Linked DNA regions of Homo sapiens: all the other regions are linked to region 1. Evidence: fine-mapped expression QTL. A gene starts in region 1. Each other region holds a variant in brackets. All regions are shown on one strand. Distances are between the middles of the regions.

Evidence for each region.
Region 2: its variant is fine-mapped to the expression of CTSL in whole blood (INTERVAL, PIP above 0.99).
Region 3: its variant is fine-mapped to the expression of CTSL in whole blood (INTERVAL, PIP above 0.99).
Region 4: its variant is fine-mapped to the expression of CTSL in whole blood (TOPMed, PIP 0.99).

Annotation. Positions count from the first base shown.
Region 1 is chr9:87,722,934-87,731,038 of GRCh38, forward strand. CTSL (cathepsin L) reads left to right here and starts at 3,186. Exons shown (of 8, transcript NM_001912.5): 1 at 3,186-3,465; 2 at 4,661-4,796; 3 at 5,094-5,216; 4 at 5,317-5,463; 5 at 5,652-5,876; 6 at 6,640-6,802; 7 at 7,448-7,565; 8 at 8,075-8,105. The coding sequence starts at 4,671. RefSeq lists promoters at 1,392-3,259, 1,610-3,231, 1,714-3,259, 1,726-3,158, 1,928-3,259 and 7 more, cis regulatory regions at 1,392-1,713, 1,781-1,783, 2,175-2,177, 2,243-2,245, 2,402-2,589 and 12 more and an enhancer at 2,977-3,498.
Region 2 is chr9:87,836,482-87,844,586 of GRCh38, forward strand. LOC112267903 (a long non-coding RNA gene) reads right to left here. Exons shown (of 6, transcript XR_930087.2): 6 at 8,036-8,105. It also overlaps the pseudogene FBP2P1. Among named protein-coding and RNA genes, the nearest start is that of SPATA31E1, 42 kb to the right of the region's middle. The variant A/ATTTAT (reference allele first, on the strand shown) is at 4,774.
Region 3 is chr9:87,789,794-87,797,898 of GRCh38, forward strand. No RefSeq gene overlaps it. Among named protein-coding and RNA genes, the nearest start is that of CTSL, 68 kb to the left of the region's middle. RefSeq lists enhancers at 2,496-3,695, 3,621-3,915 and a cis regulatory region at 2,944-3,453. The variant GC/G (reference allele first, on the strand shown) is at 3,512.
Region 4 is chr9:87,798,825-87,806,929 of GRCh38, forward strand. It overlaps the pseudogene LOC100420576. Among named protein-coding and RNA genes, the nearest start is that of CTSL, 77 kb to the left of the region's middle. RefSeq lists an enhancer at 1,407-1,907. The variant A/G (reference allele first, on the strand shown) is at 4,493.

The DNA of each region.
Region 1 (8,105 bases):
GTGGATCAGACCCTGGATTCTTCCCCTCCGGGTACAGCCCAGTTGCCATGATGCTCCTTGAGTCAATGAGCTCTTTGGTCTGATCTTCTGCTCAAGCAAAGAAAGGGTCCGGCTTCAGTTCTCAGAGGCTGATAAGTACCAAGGTGGCAGAATATGGGAGTATCCTGCAGGTGCTCCCAGCATCTGCCCTGGCTCAGGTGCCAGAGGCTTGCGATTTTCTAGCTCTTGACCTCACACCCTCGATTGTTTGTTTTCCAATTCCTTCCTGAATAACGGGGTGAACATGCCACCCCTCCTGGTGGCGAATGGGGTTCCTCAGAACTGGGAGGCCACAGTCCAGATTCTGAGGCTCTTCACTAAGCAAGTGCTGGAGAGCAAAGCCACTCACTCACAACTCTCTCTCTTTCTCTTTCAAATTTGGGGAAGGGGAGGCCATCTGAGCAGTTTCTCTCACACTCCCCAGTAAGGAACTCATGAAGGACCAAGTGAGCTCTAAGCCCCCGGTAGAAACATTCAGCTGTTCCAATGAACTTCTTGTGATCCTGAAATCTGCAAAGTTAGAACCAAGGCAGACGTAGGTACTCCAGTTACCTAACACCACAGAAATATTGTTTTTATTTCATAAAATAATAAATTTAAATACTGCTATGGTTTCCTTGTTTGCCCCCTCCAAAACTCTTGTTGGAACTTATCTCCAATGTGGCAGCATTAAAATGTGGGGCCTTTAAGAGGTGATTAGGACATATGAGCTCTTCCCTAATGAATACATTAATCTATTCATGGAATAATGGGTTCATAGACCAACAGGTTATCTTGGGAATGGGACTGATGGCTTTTTTTTTTTTTTTTTTTTTTTTTGAGATGGAGTCTCGCTCTGTCACCCAGGTTGGAGTGCAGTGGCGTGATCTCGGCTCGGCTCATTGCAACCTCCACCTCCCAGGTTCAAGTGATTCTCCCGCCTCAGCCTCCCAAGTACCTGGGATTACAGGTGTGCACCACCACGCCTGGCTAATTTTTGTATTTTAGTAGAGACAGGATTTCACCCTGTTGGCCAAGCTGGTCTCAAACTCCTGACCTCAAGTGATCTGACTGCCTCGGCCTCCCAAAGTGCTGGGATTACAGGTGTGGGCCACTGCGCCCAGGCAGGACTGATGGCTTTAAAAGAAGAGGAAGAGACCTGAGCTAGGACACTCAGCCCTCTCGCCCTGTGATGCCCTACACCACCTTGGGCCTCTGCAAAGAATCCCCACAAGCAAGAAGGCCCTCACAAGATACACTTCCTGGACCTCAGACTTCCCAGCCTCGAAAACTGTAAGAAATAAATGTTGTTCTCATAAATTACACAGTTCCAGGTATTCTGTTATTAGCAACAGAAAAGAGACTAGGACAGATATCACAGTTAGATTGTATTCTACACATTGTGACTGGTTCTCCAGAGAAGCAATGCATAAAAAGAGGAATAATCGGCCGGGCACGGTGGCTCACACCTGTAATTCCAGCACTCTGGGAGGCCAAGGCAGGCGAATCACGAGGTCAGGAGTTCAAGACCAGTCTGGTCAATATGGTGAAACCCCATCTCTACTAAAAATACAAAAATTAGCCAGGCGTGGTGGTGCGCGCCTGTAGTCCCAGCTCCTCTGGAGGCTGAGGCAGAGGAATCACTTGAACCCAGGAGGCAGACATTGCAGTGAGCTGCGATTGCGCCACTGCACTCCAGCCTGAACAACAGAGCCAGACTCCGTCTCAAAAAAAAAAAAAGAGGAATAATCTCCAAAATAGTAAACAAATTCCTGCAGACAGGAAATATAATGGTAGATACCTGAGCTAGGAGAGGGGGAATGGGGAACTATTATTCAATGGATACAGTTTCAGTTTAGGAAGATAAACAAGCTCTGGGAATAAACAGTAGTAATGGTTACACAATGTGAAGGTACTTAATGCTACTGAACTCAAAGTTGGTTAAAATGGTACTTGCTATGTGAGGTATATTTTACCACTTAAAAAACTATAGGTGATTGTGCTTCTAAAAGAGTTATCAGTTTAATCTTCAATAGAAATCAATGGACTTTGTTCATTTTTAACAAAGTCAAAATATGCATACGAAAAGGTTATGGGGTAAAGGCAGAGGTAATTATTTTTTTCCCCGAAAGGTATTTTCTACAATGAATGTTTTTATGTAATAAAAAATGAAATGACAAAAGTTTAGAATGTTTGTGGGTTTTGTTCCTTAAATCCTTAATTACATAAATTAATATCTACATTATACAGATTAAGATACATATTTTTCCTCTATCTACAACATTTCTCCATTCTCTGTATCTTAAATCCTGACATTAAATGTCATTAAATTTCTTAAATCTCAAGAGAACGACTTGGTTACCAAGGAAGATATAATCCATAGCCTAGAGAGTGGGCGAATAAAAGCAGCTTCTAATGTTCTCAACTGCTTTTCTCCTGTCAACCAAATGTTTCTGTAAATAACTCATTTCTGTTGGTTTTGGGTAAGACGTGGGAGAAGGAAGAATCCCTGAATGGAGGAGTCTGGAAAGGATGCTTGACAAAACGCCCGCGCTCTCTGGAGACGCAGCCAGTCTCCTCCCTCCTAGGGTCTGGTCTTGACGATAGCATCTCGTGTTTTGGGGATGCCTTTCCTTACCAGATTCTTCTAAAGCCCAGCTGCACCCACCCTTAAGTGGGAGATAAGGCTTCTGCCCGCGGGCTCTGCGTTCGTCCACCCGGCCCCACGTTTGCTGTGGACTAAACAGGAGCCACTGGACTAGAGTACACTTGACTCTCGGCTCTGCGGACCAAAAATTCCAGGACTAAGGAATAGCAAGGTTAGGCTGAAACAGTCCACACAGGGCTTGCGGTAAACGTCTTTTCAGGAGCCACTCGCCCAGTGCAGTAAGTCGTGTACTTAGTTGACTCGAGCGCTCCAGGGAGACGCCCGACCCTACTCTGCGCCGCCCCGGGGCACCAGCTCTGCTTCCTCCAGGTCCACTGAGGCAGGCACGCCCAGCTCTGGGACAGTCAGTAAACAAGCCACGAACCGCGCCAGGGATCAGAGCACCCAGAGTCCCCGCCCAGCTGCCGGCACAGCCAATCGCAGCGCAGCCAGGCGGCGGGGCGGTGCCGGCCGAACCCAGACCCGAGGTTTTAGAAGCAGAGTCAGGCGAAGCTGGGCCAGAACCGCGACCTCCGCAACCTTGAGCGGCATCCGTGGAGTGCGCCTGCGCAGCTACGACCGCAGCAGGAAAGCGCCGCCGGCCAGGCCCAGCTGTGGCCGGACAGGGACTGGAAGAGAGGACGCGGTCGAGTAGGTGTGCACCAGCCCTGGCAACGAGAGCGTCTACCCCGAACTCTGCTGGCCTTGAGGTGGGGAAGCCGGGGAGGGCAGTTGAGGACCCCGCGGAGGCGCGTGACTGGTTGAGCGGGCAGGCCAGCCTCCGAGCCGGGTGGACACAGGTACCGCAGCCAGGCCGCGCCGCGCCGACTCAGGGCCTGGCCCGGCCAGACAGGGAAGCTCAGTCCCCGCACGCCAGACAGCGGTACTCCTGCTGGCGTCACCGCAAACATCCTCTGACCGCTACAGCCAGTGTGTGGCGCAGGCGTCATGTCCCCGGCCCTGCCACGCCTGGAGCCCTGGAAGCTGGCTGCAGGGCGCTGGCTTCCCGCGTGCGGCCATATGACCCCGTCCCTGATTTAGGGGAGCAGTTTGGGGTGTCGGCAGCACAGGCCCAAGTGAATGAAGGAGGGAGCAGTGCGTGCTCTCCTTCCCAGTTTTTCCTGGGAAAGCATTTCAGAAAGGTTTCATTTAAGGAGAGGTTGGGGCGGCGCGGTGGCTCACTCCTGTAATCCCAGCACTTTGGGAGGCTGAGGTGGGCGGATCACCTGAGGTCAGTAGTTCGAGACCAGCCTGGCCAACATGGTGAAACCCCGTCTCTACTGAAAATACAAAATTAGACGGGCGAGGCGGCGCACGCCTGTAGTTCCAGCTATTCAAGAGGCTGAGGAAGAATGGCTTGAACCCGGGAGGCAGAGGTTGCTGTGAGCCGATATCGCGCCGTTGAACTCCAGCCTGGGCCACAGAGCAAGACTCCATCTCAAAAAATAAATAAATAAATAAATAAATAAATAAATAAATAAATAGGAGAGATTGGAAAACTTATCTCAGCTTTTGGTGTTTGTTAGTCAGGAAGATGTGTGAAGGCCTCCTAACTCTTGGGGATCTCTTTGTCCCTACTTGGGAATCCCACCTTATCATTAGTGAGGTTTTGCCTGGGCACGAAACCTGGATTTTTTGCGATTGGTACAAAACCTGGATCAACCGTTTCCCGGTTTCCTAGTTGTTGCCTTAAGCTTCTCACACACAAGGTAGTTTCATACCGTTCTCATAACCTAAATTGTCATCGCATAAACTGTTTCAGCTCCTACAGCTCTGGACAGGCTGCTTTTCATTTTGGTGAGTCCATCCAGTACCTCCACGTGCCCTGTTTTTCTCCAGGCACATCCTTGGCCTCTTCCACAGTCCTTGGGTAAATGCTTGGGAGAATAATTTAAATATTTTTATTCTACCATGGTGGCCCTAATTTTTCAGGGGGCAGTAAGATGGCTTTTTAGGATTGGTCTAATCAGATCCTCATTTTTGTTCCCTTCCTAGGTTTTAAAACATGAATCCTACACTCATCCTTGCTGCCTTTTGCCTGGGAATTGCCTCAGCTACTCTAACATTTGATCACAGTTTAGAGGCACAGTGGACCAAGTGGAAGGCGATGCACAACAGATTATACGGCATGGTTAGTGAAACTTCCCCAGAAAGAATAGTCCTGGCTGTTGAGAAGTTTTAGTCAGAGAGTAGCTTCTAGAGGCCAGCTTTTACCAATAGCCTAATGTAATAACCTAATGGCGTGGATTATGAGCACAATGTGGACATTCATCCTTGTTGTGTCTCAGTTTGGAGAACAGCATCCCCAGAGGTGTCAAGCCTTCCCTTGCCATGGTTTCTCTTCCATCTCTGTCTGCAGATTCACTTGGTGAGGATGAGTTGGGTTTTAGGTAGAAGTAAAGAGCATCAGTTACATGTTTGCCTCTAGAATGAAGAAGGATGGAGGAGAGCAGTGTGGGAGAAGAACATGAAGATGATTGAACTGCACAATCAGGAATACAGGGAAGGGAAACACAGCTTCACAATGGCCATGAACGCCTTTGGAGACATGGTAAGTGTGCTGTGGACTGCCGAGCTCTGTGCTTCCTCTCTTCGGTTCTTTACTAAGGTAATCTCTTGCTTTTCAACATTTTATTTCCTTTTCCTTGAAGACCAGTGAAGAATTCAGGCAGGTGATGAATGGCTTTCAAAACCGTAAGCCCAGGAAGGGGAAAGTGTTCCAGGAACCTCTGTTTTATGAGGCCCCCAGATCTGTGGATTGGAGAGAGAAAGGCTACGTGACTCCTGTGAAGAATCAGGTGAGACAGTGTCAGGTTCAGACCTCCCATCTTCCCAGGAAAGCCAAGAAGTGATTGACATCTTTGTTTTGGTAGACTTTAAAGTGATGTACAGTTCACTTTTTAACAGTATTCAGATGTGTGAGCTGTTGTCAAAGTCTTATTATTTTTTTTTTGTGGATGACAGCTTTTTTTAATTCCCTTTTCAGGGTCAGTGTGGTTCTTGTTGGGCTTTTAGTGCTACTGGTGCTCTTGAAGGACAGATGTTCCGGAAAACTGGGAGGCTTATCTCACTGAGTGAGCAGAATCTGGTAGACTGCTCTGGGCCTCAAGGCAATGAAGGCTGCAATGGTGGCCTAATGGATTATGCTTTCCAGTATGTTCAGGATAATGGAGGCCTGGACTCTGAGGAATCCTATCCATATGAGGCAACAGTAAGTGGAGCTCCTTGTCATCATTCCAGCTCAGCTTTTGGAAGGTGGACACTTTAAGAGATAACAGATACCTTTTTCGGAATTCATATATTAGGGCTGGGTGGGGTGGCTCACGCCTGTAATCCCAGCCCTTTAGGAGGCTGAGCCAGGCAGATGGCTTAAGCTCAGGAGTTTGAGACCAGCCTGGGCAACAAGGTGAAACCTTGACTCTATCAAAAATACAACGAAAATTAGCCGGCTGTGGTGGTGTGCGTCTGTGGTCCCAGCTATGCTGAGGTAGGGCGATTGCTTGAGTGTGGGAGGTGGTTGTGCAAATGCACTCTCCAGTCTGAGTGACAGAATGAGACCCTGTCTCCAAAAAAAAAAAAAAGTTCACATATTAGATGGCAGAATATATATCTGCAAATTGTCAGTACTGTCATTATAAATTATTAGCCTTTGCACAATCCTGTGATTAGATGGGTAACATATAGCTGTTCTTGCTTCTATGTAACGTGAAGAATATACAAGCCATTCTAAATATACACATTTCTCTATTGTGAAAAATGTCTTATGGAAGTAAACCCAGAGGTCTCATTGAAGAGACTGGAGTCAATTTTCAGTTTCAGATTAACTAATAGCATTTCACTTCCTGGGATGATTTATAACAGTGGTGACTTGGAAATACTAAGCTGCACACTGCTGAGTGTTGTGGTTCTAACTCATGTTCTCCAGGAGGAGGACAGCAGTAATCAAGTCTTTTTTTTCCCTTTACCTTTGAAAGGAAGAATCCTGTAAGTACAATCCCAAGTATTCTGTTGCTAATGACACCGGCTTTGTGGACATCCCTAAGCAGGAGAAGGCCCTGATGAAGGCAGTTGCAACTGTGGGGCCCATTTCTGTTGCTATTGATGCAGGTCATGAGTCCTTCCTGTTCTATAAAGAAGGTAAGCATATTTTTCTTTGTAGAAATTGATGCAGAAAAAGAGTATCATGACATACGAGCATGATAGACTCTGGTTTGCAAGTAAAGTTCAGTGTAGATATTTAGGTGCTTAGCATCATAGTTGTTCATTCTGTACATGCAATATTTATACCTGATGTTTCCATTTGACATTATGTTGCGTATATCTCCATGAATATAAGTACTTCATAACTTTTTATAAATAGCTATATTTACTGTGTAGTTTAATATACTTAAAATATTCTGCAATTGTTGGATTTTTATAATTTTTCCAAAGATTTTTACTTCTATTATTAAATCCGAAAAGAGCCTTTTGATTCAAGGATTTTAGTGTTCTGTGCTATTTTTTTAGATTGATATCCTAGAGTAGAATTACAAGCTTACAAAGAGGGGTCTTTTTTTCCTCTAGGAAAGCTTTTTTTTAATGAAGGATTTATGCTGATTTCTATTTCTGCTAGTTGTAAATGAGAGCTTAAATCCCTGGCCTTCTTATTGTTGTTAAGTACTATCTGGAATGTGTGTCACTTCACTGAATTCAGAGATGCCTCATTCCCTGTGGGTGACAGGATGGGTTACTGTCATGTGTCCTCTGGAGCTTCTCACCCCAGCCCTCATTTTACCATCCCAGGCATTTATTTTGAGCCAGACTGTAGCAGTGAAGACATGGATCATGGTGTGCTGGTGGTTGGCTACGGATTTGAAAGCACAGAATCAGATAACAATAAATATTGGCTGGTGAAGAACAGGTATAAATTGCCAGAAATACTTACATTTGAAATTCAAAAGAGAATACTTATTTGCAAACAGTGTTTGGATACAGTTCCACATGCCCTTAGGCATACTTCTGAAATCCCCAGAAGTCTAAGTTGAACATATAATATTAATGTTTGATTATAAAAGTAAGAAACTGTCACAAATATCTTGGGAGTATGAATATAGTATTTGTTCCATTGTATAAAGGTGTATCTAAATCTGAACAGTTTTTAAATTCTGAGGCATATCTGGCTGCAAAGACATCCTATTGTTTTCCTGTCTCTGATCTGTAGTTCTGTGAAAGGTCACAGTTTGGAGGCTGGGATGGAAATTATGTCCAGGTTATGTCAAGAATTTTTTAAGGATAAACAGGAACATTGCCTGTCCTGATTCTTTCTGTTAAGTCTATGGCCTCTGGCACAGTGTTTAAGTTGGGTGTTCCTGTTAATAACCCTTTGGGCTTTATTCTTTCTCTGAAATGGAAAACCTGCTCTTTTTTCAGCTGGGGTGAAGAATGGGGCATGGGTGGCTAC
Region 2 (8,105 bases), 110 kb after region 1:
TATCTCCACTGCCTGAAATGGTGCTTTGGGATGTAGTAGATGCTCAATAACATCTGTAAATCTAAATTAAATTTAAATACAGACCTTTCATCTAAGTGAACACAAGGGGTTTTGAAGTCGTCATTGGTCAACATTATCTGAGTTTTCACAAGACCTCAGTGTATTTGGCAAAGCATTTCACAAGTGATAAACAAGGCATCCAGCATTTAAAAGCAAAACTCACAGAGCATTCTATGGGATGATGCTGCTCTAAAGCATTCATGCTTCTGTCTGGAAATTCGCAGCATTACGATTCTTAAATCATGGAGTTCTCATAAACCAAAGAGATCGAGTGCATTTTTGAAAAATGAACTCCTTAAGGACAGGGCTTGAGTTGATGCAACTGACTCTGCAGGACACCCCTACCCCGGGTTCCCTCACTGGGACAAAGGCCCTTCATGGTTTCTGATGATGGCGTTGGCTCCCAAAACTAGGTTTTCAGACTCTCTGGCCCCAAAAACAAGTATTAGGAATGACCAGGAAATTATCCCAGGGGACTAGCATTAAAGCACAGAGGCCCATCAAGTCCCCAAGCCCAGAGGCTGCCATATTCTGTACCTACCAAGTCAAGCATGAAGAGGTCCACCCCTTGCCCTGTGGAGAGAGCCACCAGGGTTGTGCTACTGTACAGTGTATAAACTATGGTCACAATGTTGCAGCCAGGCTGCAGGGCATCCCTTTCAGAAGGCTTGTCCTCTGAGGTCTGTGGAAGAAAGGAGAGAAACACGGTGTGTTATTGTTTCAGGAGAGAACCCTTTGTCAGAGGCATGGGATTCAGATCTCCTTGAACCACTGAAGAAAGTGCAGTTCTTAGAATTTTAAGCTGCCACAAATCTATCCAGAGAAAATGAGTTGCCACGTTACCGACAATTCTAGCTGAGCTATGGCAAAGGCCATTTTTGGATTTCTTCCTATTTTCCAAACGCATGTGTCTGCAGCCTGCCAAGAAAAGCACTCCCAGATGCTAAAATCGTAAGCTGCACTCCTGAGCCATGATAGTCACAACTCAGATCACTGAGCGGAGGGTGCAGCGTCTCACTCTGCACACTCAACAGCTATCTGAGGCACATAGCACTGTCACCTTCATGGCTCAGTGGGAGAACTCTGAGAAAAAAACAACCTGAGATGAACAATCTACTGCAGTTGGAACAGCTGCACAACTCACTCAACAGCAGGAAGCCCTGACTCTGCTTTCTCTCTGACTCTGTGGATGCTCCTCATTTGCTTCTCTTCCCCACAGCTCCTCTTCCTCTGGTTCTTTAAATCTTGGTCCTCTTTCTAGTTTTTTTCTAGCCTTTGGTGCATCCAGCCAGTGCAAATGGTTCTTCCTCACCCCCTTATCCAAAATTAGAACTCTTAGCTGCTACGTTTATATTGAGTCACGCCTCCCACCACACAAACACACAGACACACACACACACACACACACACACACACACACACACACTCTTGATGGGGTAGGAGAGAGAGTCCTGACCTAGAATGGCCCAATCAGCCTCTCTCCTCCAGATATCTAGAATTAGAGGACATTCTGGTGATGTAGAGTTAGAAGCCTTGTAAATCTGAATGGTCTCACCCCTATGCTCTGACCTCATGATTTGGTATTCCAGGTGCTTGATGCCATGAGCATCCAGGGCTACTTCTTTGAAGCTCCCAACACATTTTCATTCTTGGGTTTAGTGTCTGACTTCCAAGCTACACTGTAAGCAACCTGAAGGGAGGTACCCACTCCGTCTTGTTCATGTCTGTTTTCCCACCATGTAACACAATCTGGGCCATGATCATTGCATTTAATTAATACAGACAAACACACAGATACATATATATGCAAGTTTATACACACACATAAATATATACATGCATACATGTAGTGCTTTTCAGCATAAGAATCCTACAAACGTTTTTTAGATTTATATAATACTATTTCATTTTTTAAGTGATTAAAGTACATATTTTAAATTTAATTACTATTATGAATTAGTTTATTGCTAATATATAGAAATCCAGTTGGTTTTGTATGTTGATCTTGTGTCCTGTGACTTTGCTGAACTCACTCATTCTAGGGAGTGTTTTGGTTTTTTGTTTGTAAATTCCTTGGGATTTCCTATACAGATCATCATGACATCTGCAAAGAACGACAATGTTATTACCTGCTTTCCAATCTTTTTCCCTTCCATTATTTTTTTTGCCTTAGTGTGCTGACTATGACTTCCAGGGTTACATATGTTGAGTAACAGTAGTGAAGGAGGACATCCTTGCTTTGCTCCTGATCTTAGAGGATAAGCATTCACTCTTTCACCATTAAATACTAATGCTAGCTATAAATTTTTGTAGATGTACTTGATAGGGTTGAGGTAAGCTCCTCCTCTATTTCTTGTTTTCTAAGATTTTCTTTTTTTCAGAGACAGGGTCTTACTCTGTTGCTCTGCCTGGAGTGCAGGGGTGTGATCATGGCTCGCTGCAGCCTCCAACTCCTAGGCTCAAGCGATCCTCCCATCTCAGCCTCCCAAGTAGCTGGGACCACAGACATGCACCACCACCCACCTCTCCAGCTAATTTTTTTTTTGGGGGGGGTGGGGATGGAGTCTTGCTCTGTTGCCCAGGCTGGAGTGAAGTCACGCAATGTCGGCTTACTGCAACCTCTGCCTCCTGGGTTCAAGTGATTCTCCTGCCTCAGCCTCCCAAGTAGCTGGGACGATAGGCGTGTGCCACCATGCCCAGCTAATTTTTTGTATTTTTAGTACAGACGGGGTTTCACTGTGTTAGCCAGGATGGTCTCAATCTTCTGATCTCGTGATCCACCCGCCTTGGTCTCCCAAAGTGCCGGGATTAAGATGTGAGCCACTGCACCCGGCTAATTTTTTTTTTTTTTTTAGATAGGGTCTTTTTACTTTGCACAGGCTGGTCCCAAACTTCTGGCCTCAAGTGATCCTCCCACTTCAGCGAGTTTCTTTTTTAAGTCATGAATGAGTTTTGAATTTGTTCAAGTGGTTTTTCTCCATCAATTGATATAATTATATGATTTTTCTTCTTTAGCCTGTTGATATGGTGGATTACACTGACTGATTTTGAATACCGGACCAGCCTTCTATTACCAGAATAAATCCCACTCAGTCATGGTGTATAATTTGTCTTATGTGTTGTTGAATTCTACTTCTCAATACTTTGTTAAGGGTTTTTTCATTTATTGATGAGGGATCTTGGTCTTTGGTATTCTTTTTTTTTTTTTTTTTTTTGAGATGGAGTCTCGCTCTGTTGTCGGGCTGGTGTGCAGTGGTGCGGTCTCGACTCACTGCAACCTCCGCCTCCTGGGTTCAAGCGATTCTCCTGCCTCAGCCTCCCAAGTAGCTGGGATTACAGGCACTCACCACCACGCCTGGCTAATTTTTGTATTTTTAGTAGAGATGGGGTTTCACCATACTGGCCAGGCTGGTCTTGAATTCCTGCCCTCGTGATCCACCCACCTCGGCCTCCCAAAGTGCTGGGAATACAGGCGTGAGCCACCGCACCCAGCCGGTCTGTAGTAGTCTTTTGTTTTTGTTTTTTTGGAACTATTGTTACCAAAACACCAGGGGTTTGGTCTAGGCCTTGCTGCTTACCACACAAAAAGCCAATCACTAAGACAATAAGTACTGCAAAGGAAGAAGGCTTTAATTGGGTGCTGCAGCTGAGAAGATGGGGGAGCTCAGTTTCAAATCCATCTCCCTGACAGACTAAAACTAGAGGTTTATATAACAGAGAAGAAATGTGACAATGTGCAAGAATACAGGAACTAGAGAGGGGAAAGGAAGCAATAATGAGGAATGAGGGCTCCAGGCTTCTCATTGTCAGGATGTGGTGATCTGGTGACTTTCAGTTCTCTAATACTCTTTTTGAGAGGTCTGAAGTTCCTTTCCTGAGGAAGGAATTCATATAAAACAAATGTAAGCTTCAAGCTTTAAGAACAGAAAGGTCAGTTTCTATGTTTATCCGAAAGAACAGTCTATGAGATTATTGGGTCAGTTTTACTATCATTGTCTGGTTTTTGTATCAGAGTAATGCTGACTTTATAAAATGAATTGAAAAATGTTCCTTCCTCTTCTCTTTTCTGGAAGAGATTGAATAACCTTTGAACATTTAGTATAATTTTCTAGTGAAACCATCCGGGCCTGGAGATTTCTTTTTTGAATTCTATTTTCTAATAGTTGAGCCCTGAACCTAGTCTTTCAAATTATCTATTTTATATTGGGTGAGTTAGAGTACTGTGCTTTCTGAGAAGTTAGTCCATTTCATCTAAGTTATCAATTTTATGTGTGTAGAGTTGTTTATAATATTCCCTTACTATCCTTTTGATGGCTCCTAACTTTTTGAAAAACAAAACAACCTGAGATTAACAATCTAGGTCATAAATACATGATTCTCTGATTGTTTTCTCAACAGAAATTCCAAATAATTAAATTACTGGGTAAAAAATCTTTTTATACATATTGAAGTTTTCCTCCAGAAAGGTTGCATAAATTTATACTTTTACCGTCAGTGATAAGAGGGTTCTTTTTAATTTATTCTGGCAAACACAAGATAGTATTGTCTTTTCAACTTCATCAGTTTGGTGGAAAAAAGACCTCTTTTTTGTTTTAATTTCTATTTTTATGAGTGAGGTAAACTTTTTAGAGTTTATTGATCATTTTTATTTTGTAGGTTGTATATTTCATGTCTTTTATTTTTCTATCAACATATCCATCTTCTTGTTTATTT[A/ATTTAT]TTTGTTTGTTTGTTTGTTTTGAGATGGAGTTTTGATCTTGTTGCCCAGGCTGGAGTGCAGTGGTGTGATCTTGGTTCACTGCAACTTCTGCCTCCCACGTTTGAGCAGTTGTTCCTGCCTCAGCCTCCTGAGTAGCTGGGATTACAGGCGCCCACCACCGTGCCTGGCTAATTTTTGTAATTTTTTTTTTTTCTTTTTGAGACAGTCTCACTCTGTTGCCCAGGCTGGAGTGCAATGGTGCCATCTCACTCACTGCAACTTCCACCTCCCAGGGTTCAAGCAATTCTCATACCTCAGCCTCCTGAGTAGCTGGGATTACAGGCGCCCACCACCACACCTGGCTAATTTTTGTATTTTTAGTAGAGACGGGGTTTCGCCATGTTGGCCAGGCTGGTCTCAAACTCCTGAACTCAGGTGATCCGCCCACCTTGGCCTCCCAAAGTGCTGGGATTACAGACGTGAGCCACCACACCCAGCCTATATTCATATTTCTATTCACAGTATCTCCTACACAGTGTTTTCCTACTCTATGGGGAGAAATCAGGTAGATGGCAGAAGACACAGGTCAGATCTCGAGAAGAGTTTCTATGGCCTCCAAACAAGCATTTATTGATTATAGACTTAGGGGTGGATATTACGAATGTGGGATGTCCCACAAGGTTATCTCCTGTGCTATCTAATGCACCAAGCAGCTTGTCCATAACTTAGTTTAAATATATCCGTCAGGCTCCATGCCCACTTGCTGTAAAAGCAAGATTACTGAGTTAATCTTAGATTTTAAAATGGAAAACTGGGCCTCACAAAAGCAGTTGGAAAAGTTACCTGGAGATTGTTTCTAAGGCAGTCCCCAACTGTACCAAGCAAAGGACAATATGTACAAAGTCAGAGCTTCATTAACTCTTGATGATTGATTCATTCACTTACTTAATGCAAGACTTCAGGGGAAGAAGAATCGCTGAGTGGAGGAGACTGGAAACAATGCATTATGAAGCGCCCATGGTCTCTGGATACCCACCCAGCCAGTCCCCACCCTCCTAGGGTCTGGTCTTGACCATCTCATCATGTGTTTTGAGGGTGCGTTTTCCTACCAGTTGTATTTTGTTTGCTGTTTTTTGTTTTGTTTTGTTTTTGAGACAGGGTCTCCTCTCGCCCAGGCTGGAGTGCAGTGGTGCGATCTCGGCTCACTATAGCCTCGATCTTCCGGGTTCAAGGGATGCTCGTGCCTCAGCCTCCCGACTAGCTGGGACCACAGGCGCAGGCCACCGCACTCGGCTAATTTTTGTATTTTTAGTAGAGACGGGGTTTCGCCAGGGTGCCCACGCTGGTCTCGAACTACTGGGCTCAAGTGATCTGCCTGCCTCAGCCTCCCAAAGTGCTAGGATTACAGGCATGAGCCACCAGCAACATGCCCAGATTCTTCTATACCCTTAATTGGGAGATAAGGCTTCTGCCTGCGGGCTGTGAGTTCTTCCAACCGGCCCCTTCTTTGCTGTGGACTAAACAGGAACCACTGGGCTAGAGTCCTCTGGCTCTCGGCCCTGCAGGAGATTTTAATAAACAATTCTAGGCCTAAAGGAAAAGCAGGGTTAGGCTGAAAATGCACACAGGGCTCCTGTAAACTTCTTTTCATGAACCACCGGCCCAGGGCATTAAATAAGGTACTTAGTTGATCCGAACCCTCCAGGGAGACCTCCGACCCTTCTCTTCGTAGCCCCCAGCTCCCCTCCCCCCGGTTCCACTGAGGCAAGTGGACTGAGCCGCTCCACAGGCTAGGAGTCAGCCCGCCGGAAGGTCCCGCCCAGCCTTAAGAAGTCAATTAGCTGCTTTCGGGCGGCCTTAGGCGACGGGAGACTCCTGGACTCGGCACCTGCCCACTGTGCCTGTCCACCTGTGGCTACTGCAGCTGAGACCCCAGTGGGCTGAGATTGGACAGGGGCCACCAGGGACCCAGCAAGTCCTTCAGCTCGGTGAGTGAGGGATTTTCAGGAGTGCCAGGCCGCAGTATTCCCAGGGCTGGTGGGGTGGGACAGGGAGGCTCGACCCGGGCAAATCAGGCAGAGGCGCCGCTTGCTCCCTGCACCACCACCCACCTCCTGGGGCCACAGTGAGCATGAGCGGGGGGTGGAAGCAAGAGGCAGGGGACCTGGCCTGGGTCCCCAGCCCAAAGCCTGGGAAGCTGCCTACCCCTGTGTGGGCGCGGACACTGGGGACTCTGGCTTCTGGCGGTTCGGCCACCTGATTGGGTTTATGCTCTATGAGGGGAGTTGGAGTGTTGGCAGGACTGGCCCCTGCAGGACTGCAGGACTGCGGGAGCGGCGGTAGATAGGTGCTCTCCTTCCCAGTTTCTCCTGGGAAGACATTCAAGAACTGTTTCCGTTACAAGGGGTGTTTGGAAAACATACTTCACCTTCTGCTATGCATTAGCCAAGAACAAAGTGTGAAGTGACTTCCCAATTATTGGGGATCCCTTTGTCCCTTCTTGAAATTAGATGTCTTCATTAGTGAGGTTTTGCCTGGATGACCTCAGCACAATTGGTACAAAACCTGGGCCAACGGTTTCCTAGTTTCCTGGTTGTTGCCTTTAACTTCTCGCCCATAAGGTACCTTCCTATCCTTTTCATAGCCTAAATTATCATCCCATAAAACTGTTTCAGCTCCTACAGCTCTGGACAGGCTGCTTTTCATTTTGGTGAGTCCATCCAATACTTCCACTTGCCTTGTTTTTCTCCAACCAGATCCTTGGCCTCTTCCACAGTCCTTAGGTAAATGCATGGGAGAATAATTTAAATATTTTTATTCTATCATGGTGGCCCTAGTTTCTCAGGGGGCAGTAAGATGACTTTTTCGGATTAGTCTAATCAGATCCTCATTTCTTTTCCCTTCCCAGATTTTTGAAACATGAACCCTTCACTCTTCCTGGCTGCCTATTGCCTCAGCTGCTGTAACACGTGACCACAGTTTAGATGAACAATGGACCAAGTGGAAGGCAAAGCACAAGAGATTATATGGCATGGTTGGTGGCATCTGAAACTGTCCAGGGGAACCCCAGAGAGATGGACCTTGCTATTGGGATCATACGGCCAGAAAGTAGCTTCTAGATGCCAGCTCTTACCAATAACCTAATGCAATAACTTAATAGCACCGATTATGAGCACGATATGGGCATACACCCTTGTTGTGTCTCAGCTTGGAGAACATCTCCCAGAGGTGTCAAGCCTTCCCCTGCCATGGTTACTCTTACATCTCTGTCTGAAGATTCACTTGGTTAGCATAGGCTGGGTTTTAATTAGAAATAAAGAGCATCAGTTACATGTTTGTCTTTAGAATGAAG
Region 3 (8,105 bases), 67 kb after region 1:
TACTTTCCTCACAGGATCGTTGTGAAGATTAAATGAGATATGTAAACATTTGCATGTAGTAGGGCTAACCTATTTTTTTTGAGACGGAGTCTCGCTCTGTCCCCCAGGCTGGAGTGCAGTGGTGCGATCTCTGCTCACTGCAACCTCCGCCTCGCAGGTTCAAGTGATTCTCCTGCCTCAGCCTCCCAAGTAGCTGGGACTACAGGCACCCACCACCACACCCAGCTAATTTTTGTATTTTTAGTAGAGATGGGTTTCACCATGTTGCCCAGGATGGTCTCGATCTCCTGACCTCGTGATCCACCTGCCTTGGCCTCCCAAAGTGCTGGGATTACAGTCGTGAGCCACCGTGCCCAGCCAGTAGGGCTAATCTTATACCCCTTTATTATGGGGTCAAAGATAGAATCTTTCCAGAGGTGTTGGTTATTTAAGAAAATATTTATTCAAGGATTTGATGCACAGGTAATCTCACTTATTTCTTTCTTCCCATGAGCCAGGTTACCAAATTGGTGAAATTAATTATAATGTTATTGTGGTGGGTAAGCATATATGTTAAAAGCGAAGATACAGTTCCTTATATTATTGAATTATGCTCCCAAACTTATCAAATTAGGTATACATGTCTTGAGACTGTTTCAATAGGACCTAAAATATAACCCATTGTATTTTGTGTTTGACCTATAATAATAGGGATATAGGGAATGCAAATTACTACACATATAATGGAAAAATAGTGTGGAGATTCCTCAAAAAATAGAACTACTGAATAATGCAGAGGTCCCAGAACGGGTTCTATCTTCAAAGGAATGAAAACCAGTACATGGAAGAGCTATCTTCACTCCCAGGTTCACTGCAGCCCTCTTCACAATAGCCAGGATACAGAGTCAACTTTAGTGTTCATGAACAGATGAACGGATGAAGAAAAGGTGACGTATATACACCATGGAATACTATTAAGACTTAAAAAAGAAGAAAATCCTGTCATTTGCGTGAAATGGATGGACCTGGAGGAGATTGTGTTAAGTGAAACATGTCAGGCACAGAGAGACAAATAGTGCATGATCGACCTTATATGTGAAATCTAAAAAAGCTGAACTCATAGAAGTAGAGAGTAGGATGGTGTTTGCATGGGACTTGTGAGTGGGTCGTTAAGAAGGTATTGGTCAAAAGATGTGAAATTTAAGATAGACAGGAGGAATTTAAAAAACAGATAAGAGAGGCCACACAGTCATCATTCAGTAAAGAATGTTGAGGTCATTTTGTAAAAAGGTCACACCTCATTGGAGGTATTGATAGGACTCTCTCTGGCAGAAGCAGTCCTCCACAGGAACAATAACATGGTATTTGTAAGGTTTGACCTTCTCACGCCAGTGGTGCTTTGGGAGCTGCAGCACCTGCTCAGGATCCTGGGTGGTGGCTGGAAATGATATCCTAAAGAAATGATTTCCTCAAAGGGAAATGAGCTCCTGTTTTCCAGAGTGAAAGTTCCTCCCTGGACACTGGGATCTGCAGCAGCTTTGAGTGACTAAATGTCTTTCTAGAAGCCTTTGACTCACTGGGTACCGTGGAGTAGGGAGTGCCTGCAGGATGTAGGGCCTCTCCAACATCATCCCAGAATCAGCCTGTGTTTCCTGGGCTTATTCCCAAGTAGGTGAGGGAGGCCAGGTGGGGATGGGTGCAGGTTCTCAGGGCTTCCTTCCAGTGTGAGAATCAGGGCACAACTTCTTGACCTCTCTAAGCTCCAGTTTTCTTATTCTGTGAAGAGGAATGAGAAGAAACTGGTTGGCTTATAAAACCTGCTGATGCTACACTCACAGGGTCTCAGCAAATAGACAAAGATGTAAAGATGTGTGGTGCCTGATGCTCCCTTGAGGTGGATGAAGAGCAGGGAACCACACGGTGCTGATGTCTGCCTATAACTGAGCCATGCTTCCCTCATGGATGCAAATCTCTGCAGGGCTGGGAGGACAAACAACATTCTCTTATGAGTGTTATTTTTAAGGCCCAAAGAGAAGGCTGATTCAGCCTCAAGAGTAAGGTTGGCTACCCTCCTCCATCTGACAGGATACAAGTTGAGGGCAGTTGAAATGATTCTGAATAACAGTGGGGTGAGTCTCCTTCACTATTTGCTTCCCTCCTCTGAAAAATTTCTTCCTAACATGCTCAGTACTCACTTCCTGACGACTGGTACCTACATTTGCCTTGGTCCTAGCTTTTCAGATTGCAGAATCCAGATATGTTCTTTGGAACAGTTCATATCTTCTACAGGTCTGAGGCTTCACTGAGTCCTAGACAATTTCCTTAAAGGAAATTGTGAGAAAAACTATTGAGATGGCTCTTCCTTCCCAAACATAAAGACAGAGAGAGAGAGAGAGAGAGAAAGTTGCTGCTTTGCTCAACAGCATCTGCTTGGTGAAGAGCCTCAAGATCTGACTCGGGCCTCCCAGCTCTTAGGAACCCATTCTCCACTGGCAGGGGTGGCGTGTTTACCCTGTTTTTCATGGAGGAATTGGACCACAAACATTTGGGGATGTTAGGTTGAGAGCTGGAAAACCCCAAGCCTCTGGCTCAAAAACCCAGAGCTTGCTAGGAGCACTTGCAGGATACGCCCGTGTCCTGTCACCTGCCTAAAGAAGCCTTTCGGGCCGGGCACAGTGGCTCACGCCTGTAATCTCAGCACTTTGGAAGGCTGAGGTAGGTGGATCACCTGAGGTCAGGAGTTCGAGACCAGCTTGGCCAACCTGGTGAAACCCCATCTCTACTAAAAATACAAAAATTAGCTGGTACGGTGGTGGGCACCTGTAATACCAGCTGCTCGGGAGGCTGAGGCAGGAGAATTGCTTGAACCCAGGAGGCAGAGGTTGCAGTGAGCCAAGATCACACCATTGCACTCCAGGCTGGGCAACAGAGTGAGACTCTGTCTCAAAAAAAAAAAAAAAGAAAAGAAAAGAAAAGAAAAAAGACCTTTGGGTGCTTGTCAGCTTCTTGGAAGTGAAGCCAGACCATTTCCTTGCTCAAGCCAAAGAGCTCATTGACTCAAGGAGCATCATAGCAACTGGGCTGCATCTAAAAGGGAAGAATCAAGGGCGTGATCCACAACCAAGGCCTGAGGAAGCAGGGCCCATAGTTGACCTGCACAGTATGAGTCATGACCCATGTGCTGGGGCTCTAGCCATGGGCGGTGCCTCTTGCCATTTCCAGCTTCCTCCTGCAGAGGGTGGGTGTTAACGGTCTTCATTGCTCATAACCTTCTCAAAGGCACGAGTTTCGGTTTCTGCCTTCCCTGAATCAAGTCTTCTACATTGCAGTTGCTGTAACAAAAACTATTAGCAACAACACAGCACTACAGAAGCAAGCTCCTTGCTAACAGTGATTGCTGATGACATTGTCTTCTAGAGACCACTCTAGTGGCTCGGCAGCCTTGGTATAGAGCTGATGATAAAAACTTTTCCTGCTTTTGCCAGTCATGAGGAGCATTTCTTTGTCTAGATAAGGGAACTGAAACCCACTG[GC/G]CAGCCAGAATATACTCAAAGCAGTCATTGGGATACGAATCCCACCATCATCTCCCATGTTATCCCTTTTGTTACCTTTAAATATGGTCCCATTTACTCAGGACCAATATTCCCTTATGTGGAGAGCAGGACTAGTGCCCTTGAGTTACTTACGGTGACTCATCTTTGAGTGGGGAATGTGTTAGTATTTTCAGCAAATGTTAAGTGTGATGAAACATTTGCTGAACTGTCTCCCCGTTTCGAAATAAGCTAACAGCACTCAGGGGCTCTATTTACAGCAATTGGGTGGAGTCAGGAGTGGGAACGCATCTTGCACTGTCACCTTGATTGACAATAGCTCTGACCTGTGGAGGATGGTCAAGTCCTGTCTCCTATAACGTGGGGCAGTGATGGGTCAGGGTCATGGCTCCTGCATTTGGGTGAGGCCTTCTCATCACTTTTAGACAAGCAAGTTCAGGGTGACCGCAGGCCTCCCCACTTCCATCAGTATCCTCCCAACTCCCCCTGACCTCTCTCACGAAGCTCCCCACCAATTCAGAGATCCAGTCCTGAGGGGCTAAAAGAAACATTCATTAACCTGTCTAGAGAGTCATGAATAATTCATGAATTACATTGAATTCATCCCTAGTATAACTATCTTCAGAAATTCAGACTTGGTAACCCGGTAGCCCCCTTCCTCAATGTCTTTCCAAGGCCCCAGGTGATCTCTCTGTTCCATACATAATGCTTTACACAGCAAAGTGCTTCTGGGGGTGGGAGCCCGCTGACCTTCCCTGGAATCCTGACTGCAGGTTCTGTTTAGAACATGGGGTCTCATTTTGAGAAGCTCTTGGTATTTATCATTCACAAGAAGTTCACAGGCTCCAGAAAACACAGGACAGCATTCAGGGAAAGAGAAGTGGTAGAGACGGAGACACCTGGTCAGTGTGGCCAGAGCATCCTGGGGGAAATGCACTGAAGGACAGCAGGGCAAATGCACGTGGGTGGCTGGGGAGAGGAGCAGTGCAGATGGCAAAGACACTGTCCAGACAACCTCCCAACTCAAGAGAAGGGACTGAATCTAAGAGGAGAAGAGGAGGGATGAGACAAGATGCTGAGGGTGCCACAAAGTCAGAAATCATTTGAAGTCAATGAAAGTCAGACACCTATAGATGTGACTGTGGTTTGCTGATAGAAGAAACAATGCTGGCCATATGTATTAAATACATGGATATTACGGGAAAGAAAACATCTTTTGAGGCTAGACTTAATTTTCCTTCTATCTGAACAAGGGTTTGCTTATGATTTATACTTTACTTACATTTTTCAGCTTTGTAATAAGTTGAGCTGGTTGATATAGTGTGCAAGATATTTACAAAAACAACAGAAAAAGAATAAAGTCCTTAAAAAGTCTCAACATGAATTGTTTCTGCAGGGCAACTAGGAATTTCCACTCCTGTACCAGAGAGCCACAGATTTGTCTGGACTCCTTAGGGGCCACAAGGACACTGGCTCTGATAATTCAATGGACTACGAAACAAAACAGTGGCTTGCAGTGCCACCATTATGCTTCCAGTCCTTAGGTTTTCAGGGGAGATAGTATTCATTTATTCTACAAATATTTATTTAGGATGTATGTGATGTCAGGCAAGTTATAAGCACCATGGTTGACAGGCAGAGACAGACAATAATCAAATGAACAAATAAAGAGTAATTAAGACTGCTGATTTTGGAATTAAATAGTTCTGAGAATAAATTATGGTTCAGATTCTTCACAGGCATGTAACTTTGAGCAAGTCTCTAAAACTTATGGAGCCAACATTTCCTCACTTGTAAAAGGGGAATTAAACTGCCTACCTCTGTGGGTATTTTGAAGATTAAAGAGATAAGTGTGGTTACCAAAAAAAAACTCCAGAATAGAGCTACTATTATTCTTCTTAAAGGTGTTTTGGAATCTAATAGTGCCCCTATCTCATGGAAACACCACTGTTGGGTCTTGCCTTAAGACATACCACTGAAGATTTTAGGCAGAATTGTCAGAAAACACAGGAAAGTAACAGGGCGTGTGATAAGCTCTTGAGACCTGGGAGGTCTTAGAACAGAGACGGACAGATAGGGACACGAGGCTGTAAACATGACCTGAAGCCATGTCAACAGGCTGCCTCTGCTGAGCTCTCTTCTGTGGTTCGATGTAGGGTTAAGAAGTTCCTGTGCCCTTGGGATTTCCTAGCCAAACCAGCTCCCATCCTCATTGCTTTCTCCCCTGTTGTTTCTGCTTTTTGTGCCCCCAGATATGTATGATGCACTGAAAGAGATCAAAGGATTTTAAAAATCAACTGATTTTTAAAATTCTGACTTAAGACAAGGATTTTAACAACAGACATGCAAATAAAAAAATCAATATTCAGCCATAGGTCAAATAGTCTATTCTTCCCAAATAGACTTCTGTGTCCACAATGGTCCTGAAAGTCAAGCTCTGAAGACGGTAAAACATTCTCCAAACGCAGGAGCCAATTTGAAAACCTCCCCTATAAGCTGAGAGGTCAATGTTATCAAGAAATTAATTGTTCCTGGCCTAGTGCGGTTGGAGGAAGAGAGGAGAATAGTTGTCCCCAAGACTGCGAGAGGGGCAGGAGTTTCTGCAGGAGGCCGAGGGCTGTAGCCTGCTTGCACTCATGCCTTGGTGGCTGGGCTTAGAGCACATAGGATCTGGATTATTTCCACAGCCAGGCTTGGCATGGAGGGTGGGGAGGCAGGTCAGACATCTTGAAGTGACCAAAGGCAGCAAAAGACAGACTGCTCAGAAGACCCCAGGACGCCTCACAACCATGGGGAGGAGGAGTGGCTCCCTGAAGAATAAAAAAGACTAGATTTTTTTGGGTGGCATTTAATCCAAATTTGTTTTAAAAAGATAAAGGAATGTGGTAGTTCTGGGAAGTTGTGGTGGAGTAACTGAGCTCAAGGGCAGCATGGGTGAAACAGAAAGGAGCTAATTAGTTCCTTTCTAATGAAATACCAGGAAATGAAAGGAAATGACAGATGATTGATGAGGCCTGGAGAATTTAAGTTTACAATTTCTCCTTAGGCTTGTGCTGTAATTCCCATGGCCATACTTTAATGTCCAGTTCTATTCAGGCACTAGCAAGGATAAAGGTTAACAAACATAGAAAAGAAAGTGTCAGAGTCTCTTTGATGGGTTAGGGCATTTTCACTCATCGGTCACGTGCACTCAGCCATGGGGTAATGCTTCCTGGCTGGTGACCTTCTTTCCCACACCCCATCCTCCTCCCCCATGAGTTCTCTACATTGCTGTTACAGAGGTAGCTGTTCTTGGCTGATGCCTTACAATTTGCATGGTGGAGTGTTCAATGAACTCAGAGGGATCTGCATAATCTAGGTACAAATCCCATCAAGGCTGAGACAGACAGCATTCCTAGAATAATCAAGACTTAGTGCCCAGGATCACCCATCCAGAGGCTTTGCATAGGGTGGACAGACACAGCCCTGAGGGCCCACAGCTTGAAGAGTTGAGTGCCGGCTAAAATTTGGGCCCTGCAGGATCTCCCTCCAGGCACCACTCTGCAGCCTACAAAGTTTGCAAGGACTGACAGATAATTGGCTGCAGCATGCAAGACCCAGAGCTCACCCCTGCTTTCTCAGAGCTCACCTTCTAGAACACTCTGGGAAGGCAGAAGTCAAGGCTGGCTTGCCACATTCACACGCTAGAACCAGGTACCTGGATGCACCCTTGTTATGCTCACCAGTCTCCCAGGCTATCACCACTGTTCTTGGGAAAGCTCACACTATTGGTGGGCCCAACTTGTTCTTGTACTCTGTTTGTTGTTGTTGTTGTTGTTGTTGCTGTTGTTTTGAGACGGAGTTTCGCTCTTGTTGCCCAGGCTGGAGTGCAATGGCATGGTCTTGGGTCACTGCAACCTCCACCTCCTGGGTTCGAGTGATTCTCCCGCCTCAGCCTCTCGAGTAGCTGGGATTACAGGCACACGCCACCACGCCCAGGTAATTTTGAAATTTTAGTAGAGATGGGGTTTCTCCATGTTGGTCAGGTTGGTCTTGAACTCCCAACTTCAGGTGATCTGCCCTCCCTGGCCTCCCAAAGTGCTGGGATTACAGGCATAAGCCACCGCACCAGCCTCTTGTACTCTCTCCAAGGGGTGGCAAGTTTTTCTTACTCACCTGCCTATTGGGAACCAACTTAATATTTTTATTGTGGTAAAATAGACATAACATAAAGTTGACCATTTTAACCATTTTTGAGAGTACAATTCAGTGGCATGAAGCTCATTCCCATTGCTGTGCCACCATCACCACCTTCCATCTCCAGAACTTTCTCTTCAACCAAAACTGAAACTCTTAACCCATTCAGCACTAACTCCCCACTCTCCTCTCCCTAGCCCCTTAATTGTAACAGGAATGAAGATAATAATAATGTTCATTTCTTGTTGACTTTCTTATTGGTAACCTGTCCTTGATTCAGCCAGAAGTAGCCTTCATCTTGGGAACTGTTAGGATTATTAAAGGATAAATGGAAAGTAAAAGAGTCAAACGTTCAGAGTTTAAATTCCAAAACACAAGTTTTGAGCCCCTGGCTTTCAA
Region 4 (8,105 bases), 76 kb after region 1:
AAAGACAGATAAATCCACAAGTAGGAACATTCTACAAGATAACTGGTTTTGCATTTTTGCTCTATGGCTGGGTTTTTAAACCGCACCCCAGTGTTGAATGTCACACAACTGGAGCAAAGCCTCCTATTTTGGGTCATTTCTTCCAGGAATCACTTGCTGGGGGGTTGAATGTGTTCCTTGAATTATGATTACCCTCTGTGTCTGCGCACACATTCTCTGCCTTAGGTCCCCCAAACATTGTCTCCATGAGAACACCTTACTGCCTTTTCTCAATGGTTTTTGCACCCAGGAGGCCTGTTTGGAGCTGGTAACTCCACACCGCATGGAAAGCAGCCATCCTGAAGGCTGCCAGTAATAGCAGGTTAGTACCAGGTGCCCAGGGGGAGCGAAGAGGGACCCAGTCACCCAGGGCAGCGGGCACTGCACTCCAAAACTATCAGGCACTGGAAACAAAAGCAACACACAAGACAAAATGACAGCTTCTAAGGTGAGCCGAGAACTGCAGTTCAGAGCGTCACTTGAGGCTGTACGTGATTGTCACATGTCTGGAAATATTATCAGTAGTTGGCCCATTTCCACACTGCCTCCCAAGGCTCATACCACCTCCAAGAACTGGAATTTGGGACAGATGTGAGTTCCTGGTGCTCCTCACAGCCTCCTGCCTGGACTACTAGGGGCTCACCTCGCCTGCACTGTGGAGCTGCTGAGCAATGCACCTGGGGTACCCCTGGATGACCAGAGGGTTCAGCTGGTCCTGCACTTCGCACACAAACTGCTGCAGTGACATCAGCTGGTTGGGTCCATTGAGGTTCCACCAGGAAGGCAGCATGGAGATGATTTTCTCACACAGGTGAGTCATGGGAGGGCAGACCTAGAAGAAGCAGGGCAGGACAGGTTAACTCACCTGCAGCTGTGGGTGCCCTGAGCGGAGCTGCGGTGGAGAGGACATCTTTCATTCAGGTGCCTTGCAGGTGATTTGGTGAACAAATAAGCACGTTTATGCTTGAGTACTGGGACAGTTATTATTTTAGTTACCATCAAGTGGAATCAATTTATCAAATATAAGGTTTTATAGAGGCTCTTCAGTTCTACTGGAAATCTATTAAACAGATTTTGAGTCTTCCAAGAATGTTTTTGGAATTGTGGACTCAGTCACTCAATCAACTAATGTTCACCAACTCCTAATGTTTCACTCCCTCACTTCTTCCTCCCTCCCTCCTTTCTTCCCTCGCTGTCTCTCCCTCCTGTGACTGTTTCACTCATGTAATGACCACTTTATGAACAAAAAGAGGAAAAGAGCATGAGTATCATCATCAATGTCAGAGTGGGTTTTGACCAGTAAATTAGCATTCATGGGGACTGTTGTTGAAATATTGTTTCAAATTAGACCAATTCTTGGTAATTAGCTTGAAATGATTTTCTAACCTTTTAAGTTGGTTAAATAAATCAGCCTATGTTACAGATTCATATAATTGACGCACCTCCTGATTAGAAACCACACATGCCATGCCCTGCACTGCGCCGTTAATTCCACACTCCCCTCTCAAATCCTTTTATATCAACTAAATTCCACTCCCTATTCCCAAAACAGGATTCTCAGGGGTGAGTGCAGTTGACGTGGTGGGCTCCACCTGCCTGAGCTCAGGAGTTTAGGGGTTGGGTGGGGGGTATCTGAGAAGCAGCAGATCATGCCACAGCCCAGCTCAAAAATCTCCAGGGACACTCCCTCCTGCCTCAGGAATGCAGCCCCAATCCAGACCTGGTGGGGAAGTGCAGGGGCCCTCACAGACAGACCACTGTTAGTTCCTAGATCACCGCCCCTGGTTTCTGTGACAGATTCCTCCCAGGCCTCGCCGGACTACTCCCTTTGTGTTTCCCGAGAATTCCAAAAGCATGTCTGGATCCAGCGCCTGCTGTCGGGAGTGCAGGGTTTTGGAAGGGGGGCCCATAACAGGAGGTGGCCCCTGCTGGACAGCAGAGGGGCCCAGAGCTGACACTCAGGCTTGGGCAGTAGGAACCTTCTGAGAACGCGTTACCACTTTCCACTGGGATGTCTGCCCTTTTCTTACTAATTTTGGAGAGCTTTTTGAATATTATGGGTAGTAGTAACCCTCTAGCTGTGAAATGCATTGAGAATATTTTTTTCCAGGTCTATTTCACTTTGTAACTTTGTGGAATATATTTGCCAGAAAGTCTTTTTTTAAAAGTGTGTCAAATATGTACATTTTCTTTAAACATATCTAGGGTTTTAAAAGGTTTCTAAACTTCCAAGTCATTTTAAAAACAAGTTTTCCCAAATTTCCATTCAAGAGATTGTTGTATCATTTCACGGTGAAAAGCTCTAATCCATTTATCTTTATGCTCTGTAGTGAGCGGGAGTTCAACGTTGTTTACCTTTAGGCAAATAGCCAGCTGTGTCAAGATCGCTTATCAAACAAACATTTTCCCCATTAAATTGAAATAACATATTTTGCTTTCTATAACATTTCTGTAGATATTATGATTGACTTCTATACTCTCTAGGCTGTTCCTATAACTTATTTAATCATATTGATTATAGAGCCTTTATAATGTTTTATTTATTCTTCTATTAAAGTTATAAGATAGGAAACTCAATCTCCTTAGTCCCATTCAGATGCTAACTGGAACTCTATTAAATTTATATAACTCAGAGAAATTGAAACATCCAGTCCTATCTTGCTATCAGGGATAGCAATCTCCTTCCATTTTTTTCATCTACTATTTTATGTCCTTCAATAATTTTGTTAGTGACGGTTTTTCTACTTCTCTGAATTTTCTAAATATTCCACAATGTCACTTTGGAATTACTTTTGTAATTCGAGGGCAGGATCTGGGGGCCCAGGACAAGCTTCTCCTCTCTCTGCTGCCACAGCCAGTTCTGCTCCGGGGAGCTCAGGGGACACCAACTTTCCAGAGAACAAAATGCACATGGACTCTGATTCTGTCTATTCATTAGAGACAGAAAGTCATAGTTGATGCTGAGATACAGATGTAGGGAATGTTTTCTTTCAATGTTTCAGTATGTTCCTTGCTCTCAAATATTTCTGAAGGGTGAAGCTTTACATCTTCCCAGGACTACTTCATCCAGCAACCATGGCGTGCTCTGTGCAGCACCCCAGCTGGTCTCATGCCACTTGAACAGGAGTCCCCTGCCTGTGGGGTGTGGTCTGGTGCTGATGCACAGGCTCTAAGAGCATCAAGTGACTGTTGACTTGCCTGGCCCAGGGCTAGTGGCATCTTCTCTGGTGGCATCTTCCCATCCACCTCTGGGTCCAGCTGCTGAGCTGTGCCTTCTATCCAGGGCTCCCTCAGACTCAAGGCTGCAGGTGCACACCCCAGGTCAAGTTTTCCCCACACCGGGCAGGAGGAAAAGGTGCTATGGGGCCTGTGTGCACGGCCTCCTGCCTCTTTACAGCCTCAGGCAGATGCTGGTTTAACTGTAGGTGAAGCTCCTTATTTCCAGGTACTGGATAACACTCTGCCTACCCCTCTGGAGCCAATGGACCACCTGGGCATTAAGCAATGGGGGCCTCCATGGGGTTGCACACATCTCTTGTTCTTGCCAGGTCCTCCCAGAGGCTGCATGGCTTTGCTAGAGAGCTCTGAGACTGAATGTTGCCTCTGACATTGACTAGGCATGACCTTACCAGGGCCCACACACTCCAATGCATTTCTGCGCAGGGTACTGTCCTTCTCCCCTGGTTGGGAATGTCATCACAGAGCAGAATTTCACACCAGGGGCAGGACCTGCTTCTGAGGTCTCTCTCCTGTTCCAAGGGACTCTTGACTCTTGGAGTTGGAGTGCAGGTGGAGAACATCATGAAATCAGAGCCTGTGTCCCTCTAAGTGGAGCAGCTGCCGCCTCCCCGCTACCCAGCACCACGGAGGAAGGTGCATCCAGTGTGGAACAGGCTTCCCACAAGAAGCCAAATATCCACATTTTTAGGTGTGATCTCCTGATTTTTAAATGACAGTCAATGTCCCCCCTCCCCTCCTCATACTCAACAGAGCACTGCAGCTTGTAGGGGAGGCCCCCATCTGCTGTGTTCCTCTCGCCTGGGAAGACCCACCTCGAACTTCTGAGCCTTGGGTTACTTTCCTCTGAAATGGGCTCATGAGAGGACCGCACAGATCCTGGCAGTCAAATGACAGGCTCTGTGGACAGCGTCTGGAACCCGGGTGAGCACCAGCTACAGGACTCCCTAGGTCCTTCCCACTGGGCCTGGCTCCTATGGAGGGTCCCACATGTATTCTTGCCCAAGGCTCACTAAGTAATAGAGCCTGGACAGCCCCAGTCCAAGCACCGTCACATCTCCCCTGGTTGCCAAGATCATCTCCTATCAGGTCCCTCTGCTCCACCTCCTGACCCCGAGGCTCCAGTCTGAGCAGCTGGGGGAATTCCTAAACCTAAGGCAGATCTCGCACCAGCCAGCTTAACACACTTGGCCCAAACCCAGTCTCCTCACCCCCC[A/G]GGTAAGGTCTATAAAGCCGTGCCACCTCTCGGGTCACGTCGTCGGGGTCACGTCGTCGGGGTCACATCGCTCGCGCATCGTTCTCTGCCTGCACCTCCAGGCCCATCCTCTGGCCCTAGCCCAGTTACCCTCCTTCTTTGTTGTTTTATGCTTGAGCTCCTCCAACCCTTCACTACCTGGCCCCTTGCACTCCCTATTCCTCTGTCTTCCTCCAGCCCTTCCTCGGGCTGCTTCCTTCTTCTTGCCCTTCAGGTCTTGGTTTCAGTGTCACATCAGAGAGGTCCTCATCAGCCAGGTGAAAGTAGACTCCACCATCCTCTCATCTCACTTCATCCTGTTTCAATTCCCTGCATGGCACCTACCCCAGGAGGCAGCAACCCTTTCTGTAGAGGGCCAGATGGTCTCTGTGGCAACTCAACTCTGCCATGTATGAACACCAGCCGTAGACAAGAGCGTGTGGCCGTGTCTCAATAAAACTTTATTTACAGAAGCAGGTGGTGAGTTGTAGGCTGTTATTTATCACCCATTGATTCAACTTATGCTATCTGGCATTTTTCTGATCTGTTTCCTGGCTGGGTTCTGCCGATTTTGTTCACCGTGGTCTCTGCAGTGCCCAGAACAGCTCTTGGCATGCAGTAGACACTGGGAATATCTTTTCAGTGCATGAGTGAATCAGTGTTATTTGGTAACAGCATTGCTCTTTGAAGCCCTGGTGGATCTCCTAGTTTCTAGTTTCCTTTATTCCAGCACCAACTGTGGCAATTTATTTTCATTTTTCTCATCAGAAAAGAGGACTAAACATCTGCAAGCTAATGAGGAGACCATCCACGGTCTGGGAAGGCCAGATAAGAGCGCTGAGAGGCAATGTGGCCCCGCCCACGTGGCAGGGTGTAGTGAGAGCCCATGGATGGAGCAGCAACTCTTAATTATGCAAATGCAGCTTGCAGGTGGTGAATTTTTCATTCTGGGCAAACTCCCCCTTTTTTTTTTCACTTTTCAAAATATTCCTGGGCACCTTTCTTCACTATCTGATGAAGTAAAGGCACACTACTTTTAATATCAGCTCATGGAAAATCTGATTAGAAGGAGAATCAAACAGAATAAAAATATGCCAACTCCTGAAACTCTTATTTTAAAATCCGATAAGAATGGGACTTGCAGCGACTGTAGTAAAATGGATGCTGATATAAAATCAAGATGCATCCCCCATCACTACCTGTCATAGAAGGAGTCCCTCCTTTCTTTTAGAAGGAGAACTGGGTTTGGCTAAGCAACACCAGCATCCTCAGGCAGATATGGATAGCTGTGTTGATGGCCGATGTGACACCTCGGTTCTTGTCTTCTTGGTTTAAAAGAATTTAAACAAAAGGCACACAGCAAAGGAGATGAAGCATAGAGTGATTTTATTGCAAAGGAGAAAGAATATTTTGAAAGTTAGGTGCAGAAGAGACAGTACACCCTTAGAGAGAGGGAGTTCGGGGCGGCTGCTCCTTAGGGTGAGAGGGTGAGACAGCATTGATCGTTGTTGGAGAAACCCCCTTTATGGGAGTCTTACATGATTATTAATAGGGAGGTGGGAAGAGGTTTTGCTAATAAGCATGTTCTGGGTGGTCTTCTGGGTGCACATGTGTAGTAACTGTACATGCTGGTTCATATGTCCCATGTCTCATTAACATCTTAAATCTCTACCCAGTGGTGGTTTTTTTCTTTTTTCTTTTTTTTTTTTTTTGGAGATGGAGTCTTGCTCTGTCACCCAGGCTGGAGTGCAGTGGCACAATTCTGGCTCACTGCAACCTCTGCCTCTGGGGTTCAAGCAATTCCCCTGTCTCAACTTCCTGAGTAGCTGGGATTACAGGTGCACGCCACCACACCCGGCTAATTTTTTGTCGTTTTAGTAGAGACAGGGTTTCACCATGTTGCTCGAGCTGGTCTTGAACTTCTGAGCTCAGGCAATCCACTCGCCTTGGCCTCCCAAAGTGCCAGGATTTCAGGTGTAAGCCACCGCGCCTGGCCATGTTTTTTACAATTATGAGCAAAGGGTCATTTTGAGGAGAGGTAAAATCAAAATGTGCATGCTGTCTAGAAGGGAAACTCCCCACTGAAGATAGCGTTGCTTGTGTGAGCTCAATTACAATGCAAATGCTAAGACTTACTGTGTTGGCTGTACGGTCACTGGTAACTGTGGTTGCTGCATCCCAAAAACATGGCCATTTCCTTGACTACCTATCCTGCCTCAGCTGCACTGGGCTTTGTTTTATTGGTAGCAGTGAGCACAGAGGAGTAGAAGGTGCAACCTCCTTCTGCAATAAGGTGGTACCTACAGCCAGGGTGGAGGTGTGGGGGCTATTAGAGACCCCTAAAACAATGGTGAACTGGTCAGCTACCTCTGGTGGGCAGGCAGGCATCGATCTGTAGCATTTGCTGATTCTTGTGGTGTAAATGCTCCCACCCTGGCTGATTTCAAGTACCCCGTGTGATGTCACTGAGTTGGGAAGACATGCACGGCTCTCAGGGACATCACTGGAGGCTCCTGCACACCACTGCCCTAGTTCACTTCCTGTGAACTTTCAGAGTAGATCCCACACAGATCAGCCCCTGGCCCATGTTCTTTCTTTCCCCGGGAACTCCAACCTTGGCCTCAGTCACCTTCAATGCTGTCCTGCCCCACCCATTTGGGGAGCTCACTTGGGCCCCTGGAATGCCCTGTCTGCAAGGTCCTATTTCCCATGGGGCAGCCCCCTGCACTGTCTAATAATGAAAACAGCTAGTCCCTCTCCCCTGCCCATCCTCCATTGGTCCAGGGAAACAAGAAGACTTTGGTTTTCTTTCCAGATGCCCAGTCCCATTGATTCTCTAGCAAATGTAGTTTAAAAACACATTCCTAGGCAATGTCAACTGATGAGAGCCGGGAACACAGAAAGTATTTCTTTTGCTCATTTGGCCCATTTGGAAACCAAATAACATGGCCACCTCCTTCAGCTCTTCCGGATACAGACCTCTCCCCACCACTGTGTGAGATCTACTCTGATCCAGCTCCACAGTGGCTCTTGCAGAGTATGGCAGCAACCCAGGGGGCATCAGACAATGTGTGTAGGTATTGTTTTGGTTTTCACAATATGGGGCTATAGGGGATGCTAGCATGTTAGATGCTTGGCAGCCACAGACAAGAAATATCCTGTAAGGACAGGAGTTCCTACTCACCCAAATCCCCAAAGGCATCCAGTGAGAAACACCGAGAAATATCAAGAGAAAGGACATGGAAAGGAAGAAAATGGTCCTAAGATGCTCTGAAGGGTGAATGACCTCTTCTTCCCCTTCCCTCTCCCACATCACGTGCCCCATTGTCTCCTGCTCAAGGTGACCCGAGTCAGAACTGCAGGTCAGCCCCTTCCTGGCTTCCTCCGCAGGCACTGTCTGCTCCTGAACTCCCACCACAATCCTCAGCGATGCATTCTCCAAAGAAGCCGCTGTGACAGCTGTCATTTTCAAAAACCAAATTCCAGTACCGGGTGTGCCCAGGTGCCAAGCAGTTATTTGTGTGGGGATTTATGTTCACCCACAAGGAAGACAGACTGTGATTAGCAATGCTTGGCAAACAATTCATCCCATTAT